2 separate regions of the Homo sapiens genome follow, and region 2 is linked to region 1. Evidence: fine-mapped expression QTL. A gene starts in region 1. The other region holds a variant in brackets. All regions are shown on one strand. Distances are from middle to middle.

Region 1 (5,000 bases):
TCAATGGGGGAAAGTCAGTCAACTTCCGATCTCCAAACCATCTTTACTAGCGAGCTTCCCACAATGGTTCTAGAACCTTCCTTCATTCCAACCCAACCAGGATTCCAACAGACTCATAAACACCACAGCCTTTGAGAAATTAAAGGGAGAACCCACCAACCGGCGCCCCACTCCCCACCCCAAGTCACCTCTGGCTCAACCAAGATGCGCTCAGGCCAAGAAAGCTGCCCCACCCCACAGGCTTTGCCTGTCATTTTTAACAAGCCGACTCAGCACATCTCTCAGATGGGCCATGCAAGGCTTTTCGCAGCTCCTGGGGCTTTGCCTCTTCATGAGCAGACACTCCCTCTTAGACTAAGACCTGGAGCTGGAAAGTAGGTGGTAACCGCGGTACAAAACTCACGCTCGTCCCTGCAGAAACTGCCTAGGTCGGCCCATGGCCACGGGGCGCCAATTTTTCAAGGAAAAGTCAATGCTAATAATGGTGGCAATCACGGGAAATCCATTCTGAGGCCAGATCTGACTTGTCAGGATTAATCATCATTTCCACTTAACTTCGAACTGACCTGGGTAAAAACGTGAGCGCGAGGGGACCAGGCTGCACCTCTGACCTGGCTCCCCTCTGCAAAAATCGCGAAGTGGGTGCCCGAGGTGGGGCGGGGGTTGGGGGAGACCTCCCCGGGAGTCCCCACCCAGCCTGCTCTGCACATCTTAGTCCCTCATCCGCTTGCGCTGTGCAAATCTGTCTTCTGTCATTTGTATCGCAAGACATCAAAATCCCCAACCAAATGCAAATACTGAGACCTCATAATCTGAGACAAAGTTTCACGGTATCCAGAAAGCCCCCAGCAGGTGTGCAGTGCAGAGCCAGCCCCCCAGCGGTCTTCCGCAGAATCCTATCAGTTTCCCCCTTTCGTGCTGTGTGCATCGAGCAGGAAGGGGCTTGGCAGGTTTTACCTGCCCTCTTTCCTTTCTGAAAAGTCTGGGCCTCCTCACCCCGAAAGGAGTCACCTCCTTGCAGTTCCCCAGTTGCGAAAAGAGGAGGAAGTTGGCTGGGCCGGGGGCCGCGGGGGGCACCCTCCGCAGATGGCGGGACCCCCCTGCCGGCCATGGCAAAAACGAGGCTTGTCTCTCCCACCGCCCCCAACCTTAGTCCTTGGCACATTGTTGAAAGTAATTGAATAAAATCGGAAATTCGAGAAGGCGTTCGTTCGGATTGGTGAGATTTTGAGGGGAGAAAGAAGCGGGGACTTCGCCGGCACCAGCGGCGCCCCCTCCTCGGCCACCGTTAACCCCCATTCCAGAGGGCACTGCCCCGCCACCCAGCCTAGGTCCCCCTGCGAGAGCCTCGCGGGCCCGCGCAGCCTCCGCGACTCGAACAGATCTTCAGTCCTTGGAGGAATGCCTGTTTCTCTAACAATAAAAAATTAAAGAAGCGCTCATAAATGCCAAGTCCTCTCGCACTATGCGGAGTACAGAGGACAACGACCACAGCCATCCCTGAACCCCGCCCACGGCACAGCGCCGGAGCCGGGGTCTGGGGCGCCGCTTCCTGGGGGGTCCCGACTCTCAGCCGCCCCCGCTTCACCCGGGCCGCCAAGGGGCTGGGGGAGGCGGCGCTCGGGGTAACCGGGGGAGACTCAGGGCGCTGGGGGCACTTGGGGAACTCATGGGGGCTCAAAGGAACTAGGAGATCGGGACCTCGAAGGGGACTTGGGGGGTTCGGGGCTTTCGGGGGCGGTCGGGGGTTCGCGGACCCGGGAAGCTCTGAGGACCCAGAGGCCGGGCGCGCTCCGCCCGCGGCGCCGCCCCCTCCGTAACTTTCCCAGTCTCCGAGGGAAGAGGCGGGGTGTGGGGTGCGGTTAAAAGGCGCCACGGCGGGAGACAGGTGTTGCGGCCCCGCAGCGCCCGCGCGCTCCTCTCCCCGACTCGGAGCCCCTCGGCGGCGCCCGGCCCAGGACCCGCCTAGGAGCGCAGGAGCCCCAGCGCAGAGACCCCAACGCCGAGACCCCCGCCCCGGCCCCGCCGCGCTTCCTCCCGACGCAGGTGAGCCCGCCGGCCCCGGACTGCCCGGCCAGGAACCTGGCGCGGGGAGGGACCGCGAGACCCAGAGCGGTTGCCCGGCCGCGTGGGTCTCGGGGAACCGGGGGGCTGGACCAACACACGTCCTTGGGCCGGGGGGCGGGGGCCGCCTTCTGGAGCGGGCGTTTCTGCGGCCGAGCTCCGGAGCTGGAATGGGGCGGCCGGGGAAGTGGACGCGATGGCACCGCCCGGGGTGCGAGTGGGGCCGGGCGCGCGCGGGAGGGGAAAAAGGCGCGGGCGAGCCGCCAGCGCGAGGTTTGTGGTGTCGCCGATGTCCCTTCGGGGTACTCTAGCGCAGCCGCCTGGCTACTTGACCCACTGCCACCAAACGTTTTAAATTCACCGAAAGCTTAGCTTCGAAGCAAAGCTCCGTTTCGCCGGTGAAGCAGGAAGCCTTCGCTGCAGGAACTGACCTTTACCTCTTGGAGCGGCTTCTGCAGAAAAATCCCCGGGCAGAGATTTGGGCGGAGTTTGCCTAGAACTAACGCGGAGCCAGCCGATCCCGGCCTACCCCGGGGCCAAGATTTCAGTGGCTTCCCTTTTTCCTAAACACTTCACGAGGGTCTGTTTCCGGGCTGTGCTCCCCGCCTAGAAGGAAAATTTTTAGGACCCTTGTTCGCGAAGAGGTGGTGTGCGGCTGAGACCCGCGTCCTCAGGACGGTTCCATCAGTGCCTCGATCCTGCCCCACTGGAGGAGGAAGGCAGCCCGAACAGCGCTCACCTAACTAACAGCTGCTGAGAGCTGGGTTCCGTGGCCATGCACCTGGGACTGCCTTGAGAAGCGTGGTACGGCCGTGTCCCCATGTGACCTTAGAGTCCCTTTCGAAACTGCTGTGCACAGTCGGTCACAATTTCAGACACTGGTGAGAAGGGTGGAGGAACCCTCTGGGGACAGCCAGGCAAGGTCGACCACCCATCACCTAAGGGTGGAGAAATTTAAGGGGTGAAGAGTCCCTTTTGCCTTTTCTGGATCCTGGTGATTCACCTAGTGTCTTCCCTAAGGAACTGAACCAACTCCTCCGCTGGCCTCTGGCAGCCCTCCAGGCGGTGCAGGATGGCGTGGGCCCGGTAGGAAGCTGCATGTAACCGCCCAGGGTCGGGAGGCCAGGAGGGCAGCTCCTCCTCTGACTTGAATATTGAAAACAACTTCGTCCTGCTTCTGAGCCCCTCTTAACCCATGACCCCCTAGCCCATTGGGGAGTAAATCTTAATTTACTCCTCTTCCTGAAAAAGGATCTTTAAAACAGGTAGCTTCAACTCAAGCTTTATAAAATAACAATATAGGGTTTCTCGGAACTGTATTTTTCTCAGCTGATGGTAACTGGACAGGTCTGTAGAAGGGTGTATGACCTGGGTTTGGCAGGTGGAAGAGGGCAAAGGATAAACCCCTCCTCCTGCAGCCCCATATTCTTGGCCAGGTGTATTGTTGTAAACCAGGAGAGAGTTTACTTCGGGGAGTATCCTGTTTTCCACTCAGTGAGGGCCAATGAAGAATGTCTAATTCCATAAGATGCTTTTGTTAAAATCGGAATGTTGCTGTCCTCGGTGGTTCTGCTGTTGGGACGGGACTGGCCTGAGCTGTGGGTGCTGTAGCAGGACAACCAGCTCACCTAAGGGCCTCCCAGTCTGGATTATCAATGGGTCAGTGCTGAACCTGGGCTAAAATATTGTTTTTTCCAATGATGTTGTCTTTCCCAAGCTCAGTGAAGCTAAATGTTTCACAGGCCTATGTCAATCTGATGTAACTTTCGTGGCCACCTCTCTCCTGTTAGCCTCTGACCAAGGTGGCACTGGATGGTTTCTGCCTGACCTTGGTGCCCCGTGGCAGCGACTGTGGGTCATGAAAGACATTCACTACGAGCCTGCTTCTGGAGTCCATCAGAAAACGGGATGCAACTTGCCTAAAATGAGGAGAGGAGGATGCTTTTAAGAAAAAGAAGAAGGAGGATTCACTACCAGCTCTGAAGGGTGGAAAAGAGATGATTCATCCGGATTGTGGAGAGGGTGGAATCTTGTTTAGGAGAGCGTTGGTTGTGGCAGGCAGGGTGTAACTATGAATCAGTGAAGACAATTCACATCCTGGGATGAAAAGAAGGCCATGGGCTCACAGGAGATTATCCACTGGCCTCTCCACATCCGCTTGCAGTAAGGAGTGTGGGACTCTCCCAAGCTTCAGCGCTGAACTGCAATGCAGTGACGTCGCTTAGCTGGGCCAGTAACCGAGGGAGTTGAATTTTCTGTCATTTTAAAATAATGTGTCTTTTAAGAAACACTTTGAAATTAAAACCACAGCCCACAATTATAATGCACTGTTGCAGCACTTATCAAAACAGATATGCTAACTGAGCCATCAGTGCCAGCCTGACAGTGAGGCCACCAAGCCATCCACAAAGCCTACACGAAAGTCTGTGCTCACAGTGGCTTTTCTCCATGAAGAGGGCATTCCTAACCTCTTCCTTTCACGTAGGAGGAAGCAAGGTCCTTTGTAAAATTTTAACTCGGGGTGCCTCAAATGTAAACTTAACCACTGGTAACAACAGTTTCACTGCTACATGCCACGTCTGTGAAAATTCATTCAAGACATTAAGGAAAGTGGCTCAGCAGAGAGACTAGACATCTTATCCTCACGGTTCTCCTGTACTTGGCCTCTCAGCCTTTGAGCAAGGTTGGCCCAAGCTAGTATCGGCCCCAGTGGTACAGCCAAAACTTGAGACTGCAAATGGATGCAGCTGTTGAACGCTGAGTAACTTCTGCAGAGTCAGGAAGACCCAAGGAAGCTCTGCAGAGGATGCAGGGGTACGGTCAGAACCCCTGAGTGCCTTTCAGCTAACGAGGACTTTATGACACTCCCCAGCACAGCAAATTTTTATGATGTGTTTAAAGATTGGGTGAATTACTCAGGTGAACAAGCTACTTTT
Region 2 (5,080 bases), 22 kb after region 1:
GAATCAGCTTGTTTTCTGTTGATACTGTTATTGTTCAGTTTTAGCAGTTCGCTATATATTCCAGATATTAATTCCTTATCAGATATGTGATTTGCAAATATTTTCTCCCATTCTGTGGATTGCTTTCTCACTCTCTTTAGTGTCCTTTGAAGCATAAAAGTTTTTGATTTTCATAAAATCCATTTGTCTATTTTTTCTTTTATTGCCTGTGGCTTTGGTGCCATAACCAGGAAATCATTTGCCAAATCCAAGTTTGTGAAGTTTTGCCCTTTGTTTTCTTCCACAAGTTGAATTATTTTGGGTCTAACATTGAGGTTTTTTACTCATTTTGAGTTTATTTTTGTATATGGTGGAAGATTAGGGTCCAACTTGATTGTTTTGCATGTGGATATCCAGCTTCCCCCACTATATGCTGAAAAACTGTCCTTTCCTCATTGAATGGTCTTGGCACCCTTGTGGAAGATGACCATACATGTAAGTGTTTATTTCTGGCCTCTGTGTTGTATTCCATTGGTCTATATGTCTGTCTTTATGCCAGTACTAAACTGTGTTGATTACTATCACTTTGTAGTATGTTTTGAAATCAGGAAGAGTGAGTCTTTAATTTTGTTCCTCCTTTTCAAGACTGTTTTGGCTATTTGGAGTCTCTTGGGATTCCACTTGAATTATAAAATGGATTTTTCACCCATTATCTTTTGCTTTTGGCCTTAGCTAGTGTTATGTCCCTTGTTTGGGCCTTCCTTTTCCACCTCAAATCATTCAAAATGCAGCTCAATTCCCACCTCCAATATTTCCCTGACTATCCCCACCATATTGATCTCCCTCCCCTGCGCCGCTGTTCACCTATCTCCTGCACCACCCATTGGAGACAGCATCCCACCAACTCTTCTCCCCTGTCCTTACCCTTCAAGCCTCAGCTGAAATGTCACTCATCCTAAAGCAGGGCTCTCTGTTGGGCTTTCTTGTAACATCTTTTCTATAAAGAACTCACCGTGATTAGTAATTAATTTACTTATAAGTTAATTCTTACACACACAGATTCTAAGACACACAATTCTTTCCCATTCTAACACCTGTGAAATAGAGAGCCGTGCTTTACAATTGGCGACATCCAACAATGACAGTCAGGCTTTTACTTCAGTGGTACATACATGGTGATATGTCTTATGATCAACCGTACTTTAGATGCAGTGAAACACAGTACATGTTTTCTTGTGCATTTACCTGTTTAATGCTCATCTTGTTGATTGTAAGTTGAGAGAGAATAGACCCCCAACTCAGCTCACCATCACACCCCAGCGCCTTTGGCATAGTTCATGTGCTTGTCAGCCATTTGATGGGTTGATGAATTATAAGTTCATCAATCATATTAATGAACTTATCAACATCAACTCATATTGATGGATTATAAGCTACTAAACACATTACGCTTTCCCAGGAGCCCCATAATTCCTAGAACAGTGCTACCTGCACTCAGATGCTTACCCAGTGCATATTTAAGCTAGATAACATCTATCACTCAGCTGCTCTGTGCTCTCTGGTAGAAATAAAAGGATTAATAATGCCTCATTCTTTTAGAGGAAGAAAGCCAAGTAAGTACTGTCGGAGAACCCAGTGGTTCCTGCTTTCTTTTCCTTGGCAAACAATAGGCCTGGCCTTTGTAAACTGAAATCTACACACTTCAAATATTTTATTTTGCTTTTGTGGCATCACACAGTGCCTTGGGGACATTACACAGGGGCCATATTAGAAAGTGATGTCAACTTTTTTTCAAGAGGGTTGGTGATCCTATCTGTTAAGAAAATGACACATTTCTACACTCTTAATAGCTGCTAACCATTTATAAACACATTGTCCCTACATATCAAATAAAACAAATCTTGGATAAGCAGGAAATTAAATTTGTCCTCTTGTGAGGGGACACTGAGTTCCTGGTCTGGGCTTGTCAAGGATGAAAACATGGAGGAGGCGCTTGGGCCAGATGAGCACAAGTTCTTCAGCACCTGCCCTGTGCTGACAAAGGGGCCCGCAGGGAGGCAAAAAGAAGCAAGAAGAGGCTTCATAGGAACCAGGTTGTTTCA[T/C]TTCTGTTTGTTTATTCTCTCCCAAACTCAAAAGAGGAGGCCTATTTTGCGGTTGATTCTTGCACCATTTGAGAAATTCACTCGTTATGTAAATGTTTCTATTCGTAGTAAGTAGCTTTTGCAAAGAAGGGGAAATAATGACATTAGTAGTGAAAGATTTTTTCCCTAATCTCTTGAGGATCAAAACCTGTGTAAATTACAATATAAATGTCACAGCAATGGCAAACTGCTATACAAGTTTCTAAGTAATAATAACGGGTGCCATTTTTTGAGCACCAACTATGCACCAGCACTGGTTTAGGCTACTTCATACACTGGGTCATGTTGATTCATCTTCGTAACAATCCTACGTAATCTCCATGTACATAAGCTCATGAAACGGGGGCAGTGTGGGCAAGCCACTTACCCCAGGGCAGAGAGCTAATAAGGGCAGACCAGTGATGGAAACTCAGACTTTCTCTCAATTGTCCTGAAGAAATAGGTGTATTCTACTTATCTAGCAACGGCTGCTGGTGGCAGGGAGTCTGCTGGCAGGAACTGGCTGGTCCTGCACCATCTCTGCTCATTCCTCCCATCACAAGGGGTAAGGGTGGGGAGGAAGGAAGAGTAAAAAGGACACTGTGGTGGTGGGGGCTGGTTACTGATGGAGAAGAGCCATCAGCGATGGGGACTGAGGGGAGGGAAAGAAGAAATGATACCCAGTCACTCGATTAATGACAGAGGTACGTTCTGAGAATTGTGTCATTAGCCAATTTTGTTATTGTGGGAACATCATAGGGTGTACCCACACAAACCAATGGAATAGCCTACTGCACACCTAAGCTGTGTGGTGTAGCCTATCGCTCCGAGGCCACAAACCTGTACAGCATGTGACTGTACTGATTACTGAAGGCAACTGTAACATAATGGTAAGAATTTGCATATCTAAACATACCAAAGGTATGGTAAAAATATGGCATTATAATCTTATGGTACCACCGTTGGATATGCAGTTCATCATTGACAGAAATGTCTTTATGACTGCATTAGGCAAAAGTGAAATTAAAAGGAAAGGATAGGAAAGACAAGTGAGAAGAAAATGTAGCCAGTAGAAGCCAAGAAAGAAAAGAGCAAAGGAGGAATCAAAAAGGTAATCCATGGCTAGGCATGGTGCCTCACGCCTGTAATCCCAGCACTTTGGGAGGCCAAGGCAGGAGGATCACTTGAGGCCAGAATTCAAGACCAGCCTGGCCAACATGCCCATTTCTATGAAAAATTTAACAATTAGCCAGGTGTGGTGGTGCACGCCTGTGGTCACAGCTACTTGAGAGGCTGGGGCAGGAGGATCACTTGAGCCTCGGAGGTTGAGACTGCAGTGAGCTGTGTTGGCACCATTGCACTCCAGCCTGCGTGGAAAAAAAAAAAAAAAGTAATCCATGAACAAATCCTGTTCAACCAACACCAAAAGCAGCAAAGCCTCCCAGGCTCAGTTCCTGGGTTCTGTGGCACCATCTCTCCGTCTGTCCTCCCTGTAGGACACAGGTATTTTAAGGAGCTGGAGAAGGGAGCCCAGGGCACATCTGTTCCTCCTCAGTCTTCTTCAGTCCCAGCCTCCCAAGAGTTCGCAGGGCTAGTCGCCTCACAGTGTCGCCCACCAGCTGACTCCAAGACGCACCCTTCCCTGCTGCACTTTACATGGATGGCTCGCTTAACAAATTTCCAGCATCCACCAGGTCCTCCAAAGGGTTTTATCTAACACTTCTAACATCCAGCCTTAATTTAATCTGAACTCTTCTTCCCTTCCAGGAAGTTACTTCCCATCACCTCATAGATGCATTTCCTGGCCACCTTCTCAGAGACACACTCCACAGACATCCCACCCACTACCTTTGGAAACCACCACATCCTGAAGCCACTTCTTGACAACTCTAGTTGGGTATATGTAATGGGTTTAAGCAAAAGCTGTTCTCCAGGAACTTCTGCCCACAGGTCATGGTTGTCCTTTTGGTGGACATACAAAGCCAGCCTAAACTTTTTGACACACACAAATATATACACACACATACATACACATATGACTGTGTTTACACACACACACACACAGCTGGTTAAGAGCAAGGGCTTGGGGCCGCAGATTCATATTAACATCCTGACCCTGCCCCATTCTAGCTGTGTGGCCTTCGGCAAGTTAATTAACCTTCCTGAGCCTCCGTTTCTTCATATGACCCTCACTGGGCTGCTGTGAGGATTAAGTGAGCTAATATATGTAAGTGTCTTGGCCCAGTGTCTGGCATGTAACCAGTACTCATTAAATGGACAGGGGTCTTCTCTGAGTCCTTTCTCTTAGGGAAATATTCCCACTCCCTTCAACCCCTCTTTATAGTTTGTGGTTTTTCAGTCCTCTCTGTATCCTTTTAAATGGGCCAGTCACCTTTTAAATGGGTGATGTTCCATTGTTTAAATAGATTGGATTTTTCACTGGACTCTGTCCAAAACTAAACACACTCCTGGAAACGTGGCTGGCACAGCAACAGTGGAGAGCCACCTCCTCGCTGTGGACACAACCGCCAGCGGTCAATCCGCTTCCCTCAACACCGTCATGTCCACACAGGGACCTGGGCTGCTGGATTCCTAATCAGTGACACTGAGCTTTTATATAACATCAAAGAGGGATTTGTGCTTATACTTCTTAAAAGGCATGTTTTTGTGGTTTGACTGTCCTCCTAGCCTGACACAGTCTGAGCCTCCTCAGGCGGCCTCAGGGGTTGGGATAGAGTGGAGAATTCAGGCAAGAATGCCAACCCTAGCTCCAGGCCTGGGACCCACAGGCCTGGGGAAAAGAGTGGTTGCCCCGTCTTGAGACAGCCGAAAACTGTGTCCCCAGGATTGTTGGTTTCATAAAAGCAAGTAGCTAGGGAGGCCACATTTACAGGGGATCACAGAACACTTGGGTAGGGGCTTGCTGTAGGTGTCATCAGGGAAGTGGGGGACGGCAGGAGGGATGTGGCCCAGTACGCAGA

Alleles and levels. Alleles are on the strand shown, and positions count from the first base shown. SD is a standard deviation of normalised expression in the study named.
In carriers of allele T in region 2, the expression in monocytes of the gene that starts at base 1,891 in region 1 tends to be lower than with C alone (large effect, 1.0 SD a copy in BLUEPRINT).

Evidence for each region.
Region 2: its variant is fine-mapped to the expression of GJB2 in monocytes (BLUEPRINT, PIP 0.95). The same link has a PIP of 0.9 or more in monocytes after LPS, monocytes after Pam3CSK4 and monocytes after R848.

What each region holds. Positions count from the first base shown.
Region 1 is chr13:20,189,829-20,194,828 of GRCh38, reverse strand. GJB2 (gap junction protein beta 2) reads left to right here and starts at 1,891. Exons shown (of 2, transcript NM_004004.6): 1 at 1,891-2,046.
Region 2 is chr13:20,168,151-20,173,230 of GRCh38, reverse strand. No RefSeq gene overlaps it. Among named protein-coding and RNA genes, the nearest start is that of GJA3, 9.6 kb to the right of the region's middle. The variant T/C (reference allele first, on the strand shown) is at 2,082.